Linked DNA regions of Homo sapiens. The protein of the gene in region 2 purifies or fractionates together with the protein of the main gene of each other region. This does not show direct contact. Each region holds a gene or a part of one and is shown on either strand. Other genes may lie near its edges.

Region 1 (3,657 bases), on a different chromosome or scaffold from region 2:
GTGAAGGACAATGTATTCACTGACAAGTTTCCAGAGCTTAGAGGAGTGCTTATATTACTAGACCGTTATTGACTGCTCACTGAACAAATGACAGAAAGAAACAAATCTTATCAATTAAAGTCTAGCAGCTAACATGACTAAGGTACTAAGATAGGGAGGATCCACTCAAGACTGCAGGTATCCTCCCTATTTACGTGAAATCTATCCATTTCAAAAACATTTAATGAACCAATATTTAAATGGGGACCCGTAAAGTTTCAATCTCTAATTTTTCAAAGAGATAAAAGGAGTAAGCTGGCCCTTGGAAAGCAGGTGCAGGCCAAATCCAAACTATTTGAGAAAGCTTATATATATTAACCAAATGCCCACTTAAAAATCTTTAAAAACAAGGATTCCAATGAGCTATTTTTTCTCCAATGGTTAAAGTAGAAGCAATATATACGATTAATTACATAGTTATAACCATATTTACTCACCCTCCTAATAGTATCTGTGGCTGGTTGGATTCATTTGTGATACCAAAAATATCAGGAATTAGATCACCATTGAAACTGAAAAAAAATTAAAACAATAAGCAGCTATTTCTTTAAATTCTTACTTCTAATTTAGCTTTAAAAGAAGCAGTAACTTTTGGGAAGTGTGGTAGACATTACAATGCTCGCCAGTATCTAGTGATAAGTATTAAGTCAAATGTCAGCACAAGTGACATGTGTCACTTTTAGGCCAAAGTGTATAATTTCTGTTACCAGCCCCTCCAGCCCTCTCCAGGCTTGCCATGGCAATGAGAAGGCATTGTGATTCAGATGGACTAGCTACAAAGACAGTGGGCTCTCTGATGGCCTGACTCTAAGCAACAGCACAGAGCAGAGCCTGTTGTTGACCCACACTGGACATATAGTAAGAGCAAGAAATAAATTCGTTTTGTGAGATTTTGGGTATCTCTGTAATCTTTGCATTATCTAGACTACCCTTGAATGATAAGGATACAGCACTAATTCCTAGAAACTTACTTCAGAATCCTAAGCCAACTTGTTTACTTAGATGGGCTTAGGAGAAATAACCTAGAAAAATAATCCTAGTTGGTATAAAACTTCATACTGGCCATTGAATATTTTAACAACAATGAAAAAATACACAACTATGAAAGAAATCTAGCGGGGCACCGTTAAGAAGATTAATCCATGGATTTACAGTTCAGACTTCTAATGGCCACTGACACACTGCTGTATGGGTATGATTTTAATAACTGTAAGAAAGACAGTACTGGAAACAAGAATGTGGCCAAACTTTGCTCTAGTCCCGGGAATGATCTCGACCTCTACCAAAATACGCTGTCAGAAATTTGCAAATCCAAATTTACATCAATTATTTAAATCAATTATGCTGGTACATGAGTCTACAGTGAGAATATAAATGATAACACAAAGCAGGAGTTATATTATAAAAAGAACAAAAATTTCTCCTTAATATAGGAATCTTTCTAAATTTCTAGAGGAAACTGTATCCTAAATATCAAATATAACAGTTTTACTCAAAAACAGGTATCTTAATTCTTTCAGTAATGACAGCATAGATCCATAATGGACACATTTGAAGCGACTGAAATAAAAACACAAATCTCTTCTACTTTCCAAAATAATAAATTTCATTTTTCTTTGTCCTATCTGATGGCAAATAAATACAATATAATCAAAGGTACAGGCCTCTGAGTGAATTTAGTATTTTTATTACTAAGCAAAGTAGTTTCCTATGTGAAGATTTTATTTTATGTTTAAGTTTAAAATCGTTTCAAAGGAAGCAAGCCCATACTTACTCCATAATTAGTGGCTCATCTTGAAAAGTCCTATTGAGTATGGTCATATTGTTAGGATCTGCAAAAAAGATATATATATATATGAATTAGCAGGCATTTTATATTACTTTTGATATCTATGCTTAGGAAAAAATATTCTTCTACTCTTTTCTAGATTTATCTCTGATTTATTCCAACTATTATCATTAATGAGATACTATAAATCTAGTTCAAATGAACATCAAGCTTGCAAAGACAAAATATTGGGAGAATACATTCTACAGTGAAGACTAGCATTACAATAACCTCCTTTTGAGGTATGCATCTAAATATTTGCTAGCTGAGTCTTTGTCTTTACACAATTTAGTGCTAGAGAGGTTGACAATTAACAAGGTTTTGGTGTAAAGAAGGCCACATATGCAAAACTTCCTGGTTCTAAAATGTACATGCTTATATACAAGCTTTGTGCATGGTACTCCCTCTGTAAATATTTATTGACTTAATGAATATAATGTATCGCGATTACTGTTTACATTCCCAAATGGTGCAGAAAACATGACTGAAATTTGGCTCCATGAACAAAGTTGCCTATTTAGGTATAACTAATTGGCTTTTCAGATAAGGCTTGATGATTTGTGACTAGGTATGGTAGACTGACTCTCGAACCATACTTCAACTTTTTTGTGCTTTCCTGTGCTAAGGAGACTAGAAACCAAAAATAGCATTTTCCAGATATTGTGGCATCTGAGATGCTGAATAAAAGTTAAGCCTTGCCAATCAGATACACTGTGAGTCTTAAAGGCATGAATGAGGTAAAGGCTGTTTCTCTGCTATTTCTATCTGTGTCTGCTCACTGAATTTGGGAGTATCAAGAGACCAGGTGCAGCATTCATTTTGCTAGTGAGAATCACTGCAGGCACAGCATCATTCTGGCAGCAGTTGTGTAACTAGCCACTTCTGATAGGGGAAAGAGGCAGTAGCTTTTTTGATGATATTGGGATTGCTCCTGAAAGCTCAACCTAGAGTTTATTCTTTAGCCATCTCAATGATTCTGTGAGCCACTAAAATCCTTTAATAAATCTCTGTCCTCTTTAAGCTAGTAAGAATGAAGTTTGTCAGTAGAAGTGATCCCTGCCCAGTTCAGGGTTGAAAAAGAAAAATCAGGAAATAAACTTTGAAAAAAGGTTTTACAATTATTGACACCCAAGAACAGTATTTTTGAACTGATTTCAGAACAATATTTTGTTACATTTACCTTCATATTCAATGATAAATATTAAAAATTTTTAAAACAAATTCACCTAATGTTTGATTTTGTCCCCAGAAGATAACAGCTCCTAATTCACTCTTGGCATAATTTTTGGGAAGATATGTCAGAAGGACATCCATTTGAGAATCTCCATCATAATCCCCAGGGACTACACTTGTTATCAATGCACTGTGATTCCTAAAAGAAACAAGCATTTACAAATATCAGACAAGTTGTAATGGAAAAGGACAATTCTGTATTTCTACCACACAAAAATATTTTCAATGAAAAACTTAAAACTTAACAGAACTGACTGATTGCCTTCTCTTTCCTATCTTTTCATCCATCATGTATTTAGACCTCTTTGGTCTAAAAAAGAGTTCAGAATGAATGCAGAATAGTCTCAAGAAACAAGACAAATCTGAAATATGTCGAGAGAAAACGTGTTTATTATGTTCAAGCAATGGCTAGTATAGCCCTTCTATATAGTTCCTTTGTCAAGGACACCAAGACATTCGGATGGTGTTTCTAACAAATGGAGGCTCATAATTGCCAAAGCAGTAAGCATTATCACTGGGATGTTTTCAATTAAAAGATATTATTTATAAAATATTTA
Region 2 (3,657 bases):
TGCATCTTTCGGGGGGAGTGCCTGACTTTCATCAGCTTCTCAAAGGGACCACGACCCCCAAAAGGTTAAGAGCATGGCATTAGCACAGGGCTAGAAGGAGGTACTCCCAAACCACTACTGGAAGAAACTCTCCAGCCGGCGCCTGGGTCATTAATCATCCCATCCAAAGCAACCGTGGTTGATGCTCCCCACCCTAGGTAATTCACATGCTGCCCCTCCCTTCTTAAGGGGCCCACTCAAGGTTAGGAGGTTATAGGACAAATCGAACATCATCCCCACATGGCCCTAACGCAGAGGACACTTTACCAGCCGAAAAACGTGGATGTCTTGGTTTCTGGTCACCAGATGTGCATTCTTCGCTGTGCACGTAGCTGTCTCCAGCTTGTCCCCTGTCAGCATCCAAACCTGAAATCATGGCGTGACAGAGGTCCTGTTTATTAGTTTTTGAGGCCGGCCTGTCATCTGCAACAGCTGAGTTTCCAACAACATGGAGCTGAACTTGGTATGTTCCGTTTACCTCCTGCCGACTCATGCTGTCCCCAACACAACACAGCAAGCGCCCTGGCTGAAGGGCTCTGGGACTCCAAGCAACCACTGCTGGTAGCAGCAAAAACTGGCAGATGCTTCTAGAAAGGGCCATTTGGCCACACACTACAGGAGGTACTATGAAGCTCGGTCCTTGGACCGCATAATTCCCCTTCTGAGGATTTTTCTTAAAGTGATAAATATCCTAAAAGAAGGGAAAGGCTGTACAGGTGAGGGGGCACTTCCCTGTCCTACAGGAAACACTCATTTTTGACGCTGTGGACTTTCTATGTAGTTGGATGAGCAAGACAGACCCTTCTGGGGTTTAACTCAGCTTATAAAACGCTGACCGTAAATGAGTCAGGTTCTTCCGTATCGTGCATTAGCTCACACTGCATTTCTCTGCTGTGGGCTCAGAGAGGGTAGATGACTTGCCCCAAACCACACAGCTACCTCTTGTCCTAACCAGGCCCAGAATCCGGGTCTTTAGAGTCCTCATGGAATGTGCTTCCTGCTCTGTGATTTTACCTCATTAACCCTTTTGTTCTCTTTGCTCCCAGCTGGGAGCAGTCTTGGGGCTATCGGTCAAAGAAAATCTGGATAGGAGGGAAAGTATAGGAAAGAAGATCATGACAATTGTCTCCTGAGTGTCCACTACGTGCCCAGCACCCACGCTGAGCTCTCTGTTACCTTCATGACAGCTTCTGGAGGCTGGAAATGGAAGCGCTAAGAGCTTCAGTCATTTGCCAAGGGTCACAGAAGAAGTAAAGGGAGAGGTAGGATGGAAACCCAGGCAGTGAGACGGGCAGAAGGAAGGCACCGGGCACCTCTCAGGGCTGAGCCTCCCGGGCCCTCTCCCCTAGCTGGGTCTGTTTTCCCTCAATATCCCGCCTGTCCTAAAAATAATATTCTTTTTGGTGAGCTTCGTTTAGTCATAGTTCTCAGGGTTTGAGGTAAGAGAACAAACACTGGGGAAGGAATTGGGAAGTTCAAGTTCCAGAAAAGCATGAAAAGAACGATCAGGTGCACGACATGGCTAATGTCCCATGCTGTGATGAAGGCAAGGTACTACAGGAAGGGTCCAAGACCCCAGCTCCAGTCCCGGCTCTGCTGCTTCCCAATGTGAGAACCTGGGGAATGGAGACGCCTCACTTAGCCTCAGTTTCTACATCCATACAAGGGGCTGATTTAGAAAATATCCTGTGCAGCCAGGCGCGGTGGCTTACGCCTATAATCCCAACACTTTGGGAGGCCGAGGCAGGTGGACCACTTGAGGTCAGGAGTTCGAGACCAGCCTGACCAACATGGAGAAAACCCATCTCTACTAAATATCTAAATATACAAAATTATCCAGGTATGGTGGCACATACCTATAATCCCAGCTACTTGGGAGGCTGAGGCAGGAGAATCTCTTGAACCCAGGAAGTGGAGGTTGCAGTGAACCGAGATCGCACCACTGCACTCCAGCCTGGGCGACAGAGTGAAACTCTGTCTCAAAAAAAAAAAAAAAAAGAAAGAAAGAAAGAAAAGAAAAGAAAATTTCCTGTGCAAGATCGTATCTTAGACTTTAATTACCAACTAACCTGCCCCATCCCAGGCACTCCCCTCCTCCTGTCATCTAACAGGAAACTAGAATGGTAAGTCACATGCACACTCTGTGAATAAAATATCTCGTCTTGGGCTAACATAGTTTTGAGAAGGAGAAAAACCCCAGGACAAAGATGGAAGCAGAAAATGGAAACTCCAGAAGTCTTAGGAATGGCCAGGGCCCCACTGCAGACCCCACGATGAAGCAGAAATGGGCCTCCAGCGGCCAGACTTCCGGAAGCAAGGTCCCGTTGGTGATTTCCTTATGACGAACCAGGCCTGTGAGCCAAATGCAAGCGACAGAATTGGGTTTACAAGGAAACAGGCACGCAGGGGTGGGAGTCCCCAGTGGGCCTGAATGTTGCCTGGCATCTAACCTGTCCTCCTGCCATGGCCCTGCTGAAAGGACAGGCCCCAGGATGCAGCAGAGAGCCACTTTTGAGTGGAGGCCGGTGGCAGGCACACGTTTCCAGGAGCTCCAGGCCAATGAGTTTGGTTGTTCACACCTCCCTTGGTCCACTGAGGACCAGGTCCTCACGCGCCCTCTGCTGGCCCCTCCAGATTCAACTCCTAGTATTTTTTTTTGGGTCGCCACTGGTAGAGTGCAAAATGCTAATACGACAGTGTGATGGCGCTGACGGTCACTCTGCTGGGTGGTCACTCACTCACTTGGCCACACGGCAGACAGACCGGCGTGCTGATCACTCAACTAGAATTTAATCAGCAGCCATGCACGCTGGACACTGCTCGGCCTTGAGCACCAGGGAGCCCAGTGGAGTCAGGGGAGTCATCGGTACAGTAAAGGCAAACGCTACACAAGATGTCTTCCAAAATCAGGGCTGGAGGGCCAGGCACAGTGGCTCACACCTGTAATCCTAGCACTTCGGAGACTGAGACAGACAGATCACCTGAGGTCAGGAGTTCAAAACCAGCCTGGCCAACATGGTGAAACCCTCTATCTACAAAAATATAAAAATTAGCCAGGCGTGGTGGTACGTGCCTGTAATCCCAGCTACTAGGGAGGATGAGGCACAAGAATTGCTTGAATCCAGGAAGCAGAGGTTGCAGTTAACCAAGATCATGCCACTGCACTCCAGCCTGGGCGACACAGCGAGACCCCGTCTCAAAAAAAAAAAAAAAAAAAAAATCACAGTTGGAGGGGCAGAAACAGTGCCTGTGGCCCATTGCAGATAAGGCACTCCTGGTGTCCTCTGCTGCTCCTCCCACCCTTTCCCCCTGTGATCTCCCTGCACTGCTGAGGGATAACTGGCATTGCCCTGGAGTGCCCTTCCCTGCGGGCAGCCCGCCCTACCTTGATGCCAGCATTCCTCAGGGTCTCCAGCGTGGGCCGCACATCTGCCTGCAGCTGGTCCTCCACGCCCGTCAGGCACAGCAGTTCCATCTCCATCTCCAGGCTCTCGATCACCGTGGCCACTTTGAGGGAGCGGTCGTGCACACTCAGCTTGGCCTGGACGTAGCGGGCCTGGGACACACCAGCAGATGCAGTCACTGCTTAGGGTGAGGAGAGGCCAGGCTGACTGGCCA
Region 3 (3,328 bases), on a different chromosome or scaffold from region 2:
ATTATGGAATCTTTGTGAATTGTGGTTGGTTACATAGTTTCTAAGCCAGAGATTGTTTCCTCTTCTTACCTATGTAGGAAGTACAAGCTTCCTAGTATTCTCTTCTGCAAGCTAGAGAACCAGGAAAGCCAGTGTTGTAATCTAGTCTGAGTCGAAAGCCTTAGAACCAGGAAATGTCTTCCTGACCAATACATGAAGTATTATTAAAATATGCCTAAATAAAACAAAGCATAATTCTCAGTGTAAGGCCAAAGGTCTGGGAAACTGGGGAACTCCAATGTCTGAGAGTAGAAAGAAATGGATGCCCTAGCTTTAGAAGAGAATAAATTTACCCTACCTGACTTTTTGCTCTGTTTGGGTAAGACCTGCACGGATTGGATGATGCCTGCCAACATTGGTGAAGGTAGATCATCTTTACACAGCTTAGTGATTCCAACATCAATCTCTTTCAGAAAAGCCCTCATAGACACATCCAGAGATAATGCTTTCCCTGCTGAGTATACCTTATCTCAGTCAAGTTGACATATAAAATTAGCCATCACACTTCACTTGACAGTTTTAAAGTGTTTTCAAAATGACTATTACTTAAAACAGAAAGCCAATCATCTTTTACATAATTGAGACCCACCCTGAAGAATAAGAGATAGCTGTAATATATTTACAGTTCACTGCCTTTCAAAGTGTTTATTCAGAATTATACTAGAAGTAATTTCATGAAAATAATATTGTGCAACCTTTTCATTCTATTTCAATGAAAAGCAGGCATGAACATTACTCAAGCTTGAAATTTTACTGAAAAGTAAACATTTCAATTAAGCTTAAGGAAAAAAGAAATTTCCTGAGATTTCCAGTGTATACAGAAGTGTCTTTCCATTAAGAATAATTAAAAGTTAAAAAATATGCTGATAACTTGCCACAATTGACAGAATGCAGATTAATAGGATAAATGGCAAACAAATCTATAAAAATGCATGCAGAGAATCAGAGTGATCACCCCACCAAGCAATGGGGTATAGATGGTGATATACCCTTGTCCTTAGGGGAGAGGGAGATGGGGAAGTGTGGGTGATTTTGGGGGAAGAGTAAATAATTTGGGGAGAACTTAATGGGGTGAAGATCACATAAATGGCCTGGGACAAAGTCTACTGGGCTTGCAGAGAAGACAATGGTTTGTGAGAAAAATCTATCCAGGTGGGTTAAGAGACTTCATTCTTTTTCCTACAATATGACTTCAGTTAATGAAAACCCATGGAAGGCACCAGAATTAACTGTTTTCTTATTTGGTGAGTCTGAACTTAAAGCAGATAAAGGAACTTCAGAGAACTTCCTCCTGTGCTCTGGGAAAACAGAGGATTAAGAAACAGAGGTTGAGGAGGAGGTCAGAGAGACCTCGAGTCTTCTTTAGTTCCACCTGTCAAATCACTATATGTTAGGGTATCCGTTTCTGAGCCCCAACAATAGTTTGGAAATATATTCTCCCAATCTGTAAGTTGTCTCTTTACTCCATTAATTATTTCCTTTGCTGTGCAGAAACATTTTTTATTTTATGCAATTTCATTTGTTTATTTTCACTGTGGTTGCATCTACTTTTGAGGTCAAATCCAAAAATTATTGCCCAGACCAACGTTGTGAAGCTTTCTCCCTATATTTTCTTTTAGTAGTTTTACAGTTTAAGTCTTTAATCGATTTTCAGTTGGTTTTTATATATGGTAGGAGGTAAGGGTCCAATTTTATTCTTCTGCATGTGGATATACAATTTTCCCACCACCATTCATTGAAGACTATTTTTTCCCCATTGTGTATTCAACATTTAGGGACTGGGGCTGGGGAATAGAGAGATGTTCCCCACATGTCACAGGGTAGTAGGTTTCAGTTAAGAGGAATAAGCTTTTGAGATCTATTGCACAGCATAGTGACTATAGTTAATAATAGTGTATTGGATCTTTCAAAATTGTCAAGAGAATAAATTTCAAATGTTCTCACCACAGAAAATGATAAGTATGTGAGATGATGAAATGTTAGTTTGATTTAATCATTCCATAGTGTACACATATATCAGAACATCACATTGTATTCCATAATTATACAGTTGTCAGCTAAAAATTTAAAAAATAAAAATATCCTTTAAAAATGCAAATAGCAACTGCAGATAGAAATTTATCATGTATCTCCCAATGTGCTTTTTTATTGTATATATTTGATGTGTATAATGTGATGTTTTTATGTACATACACTTAATCTAATTAACATAAGCTTCATCTCACATACTTACATTTCTTTTTGTCTGTGTGGTAAGAATATCTAAAATCTGTCATCAAGTTTTCAGTACACAGTGCAATACTATTATAGTCCTCATACTGTATGTTAGATATCTAGACATACTCACCCTTTGTAACTGCAACTCTGTATCTTTTGACCTGTGTCTCTGTATTTTCCTCATCTCTGGTAACCACCATTCTACTCTATTTCTATGTATTTGGGTTTTTTTTTTAAGTTTCACTATAAGTGAGATCATGCAACATTTTTTTTCTGTGTCTGGCTTATTTCACTTAGTATATATAATAAACCCTATAGGTTTATTTACATTGTTTCAAATAACAGTGCTGAGACCAGCTCAGTCGGGTAGATCCTAACCCAGCAGCGCCAGAGGAACTAAAGACACACACACAGAAATATAGAGGTGTGAAGTGGGAAATCAGGGGTCTCACAGCCTTCAGAGCTGAGAGCCCAGAACAGAGATTTACCCATGTATTTATTAACAGCAAGCCAGTCATTAGCATTGTTTCTATAGATATTAAATTAACTAAAAGTATCCCTTATGGGAAATGAAGGGATGGGCCGAATTAAAGGAATAGATTGGGCTAGTTAACTGCAGCAGGAACATGTCCTTAAGGCACAGATCGCTCATGCTATTGTTTGTAGCTTAAGAACGCCTTTAAGTGGTTTTCCACCCTGGGCAGGCCAGGTGTTCCTTGCCCTCATTCCCATAAACCCACAACCTTCCAGCGTGGGTGTTATGGCCATCACTAACATGTCACAGTGCTGCAGAGATTTTGTTTATGGCCAGTTTTGGGGTGAGTTTATGGCCAGATTTTGGGGGGCTTGTTCCCAACATAACAGGATTTCTTTTTACAAGGCTGAATAATATTCTATTTTTTATATATATATATATATGTATGTATGTATATAATGTGTGTGTTTTATATATATGACAATTTCTTTATCCATTCATCTGTTAATGGTCACTTCAGTTAGTTCCGTATCTTGGCTATTATGAATAAAGATGTGTTATAATAAACAGGAAAGCAGATATCTTTATGAGGTGGTG

Evidence for each region.
Region 1: the proteins of ATP9A (region 2) and ITFG1 fractionate together in Homo sapiens (co-fractionation; one large-scale study listed by BioGRID). This does not show direct contact.
Region 3: the proteins of ATP9A (region 2) and CLEC2D purify together in Homo sapiens (co-immunoprecipitation; one large-scale study listed by IntAct). This does not show direct contact.

Annotation. Positions count from the first base shown.
Region 1 is NC_000016.10:47,450,920-47,454,576, forward strand, and holds part of ITFG1 (T-cell immunomodulatory protein isoform 1 precursor), read right to left. Parts: intron 3,240-3,657; coding exon 3,094-3,239; intron 1,872-3,093; coding exon 1,814-1,871; intron 552-1,813; coding exon 477-551; intron 1-476. UniProt on the Homo sapiens protein: Modulator of T-cell function. Has a protective effect in graft versus host disease model.
Region 2 is NC_000020.11:51,621,768-51,625,424, forward strand, and holds part of ATP9A (probable phospholipid-transporting ATPase IIA), read right to left. Parts: intron 3,596-3,657; coding exon 3,425-3,595; intron 406-3,424; coding exon 307-405; intron 1-306. UniProt on the Homo sapiens protein: Plays a role in regulating membrane trafficking of cargo proteins, namely endosome to plasma membrane recycling, probably acting through RAB5 and RAB11 activation. Also involved in endosome to trans-Golgi network retrograde transport.
Region 3 is NC_000012.12:9,696,883-9,700,210, reverse strand, and holds the end of CLEC2D (C-type lectin domain family 2 member D), read right to left. Parts: 3' UTR 658-3,328; downstream 1-657. UniProt on the Homo sapiens protein: Receptor for KLRB1 that protects target cells against natural killer cell-mediated lysis. Inhibits osteoclast formation. Inhibits bone resorption. Modulates the release of interferon-gamma. Binds high molecular weight sulfated glycosaminoglycans.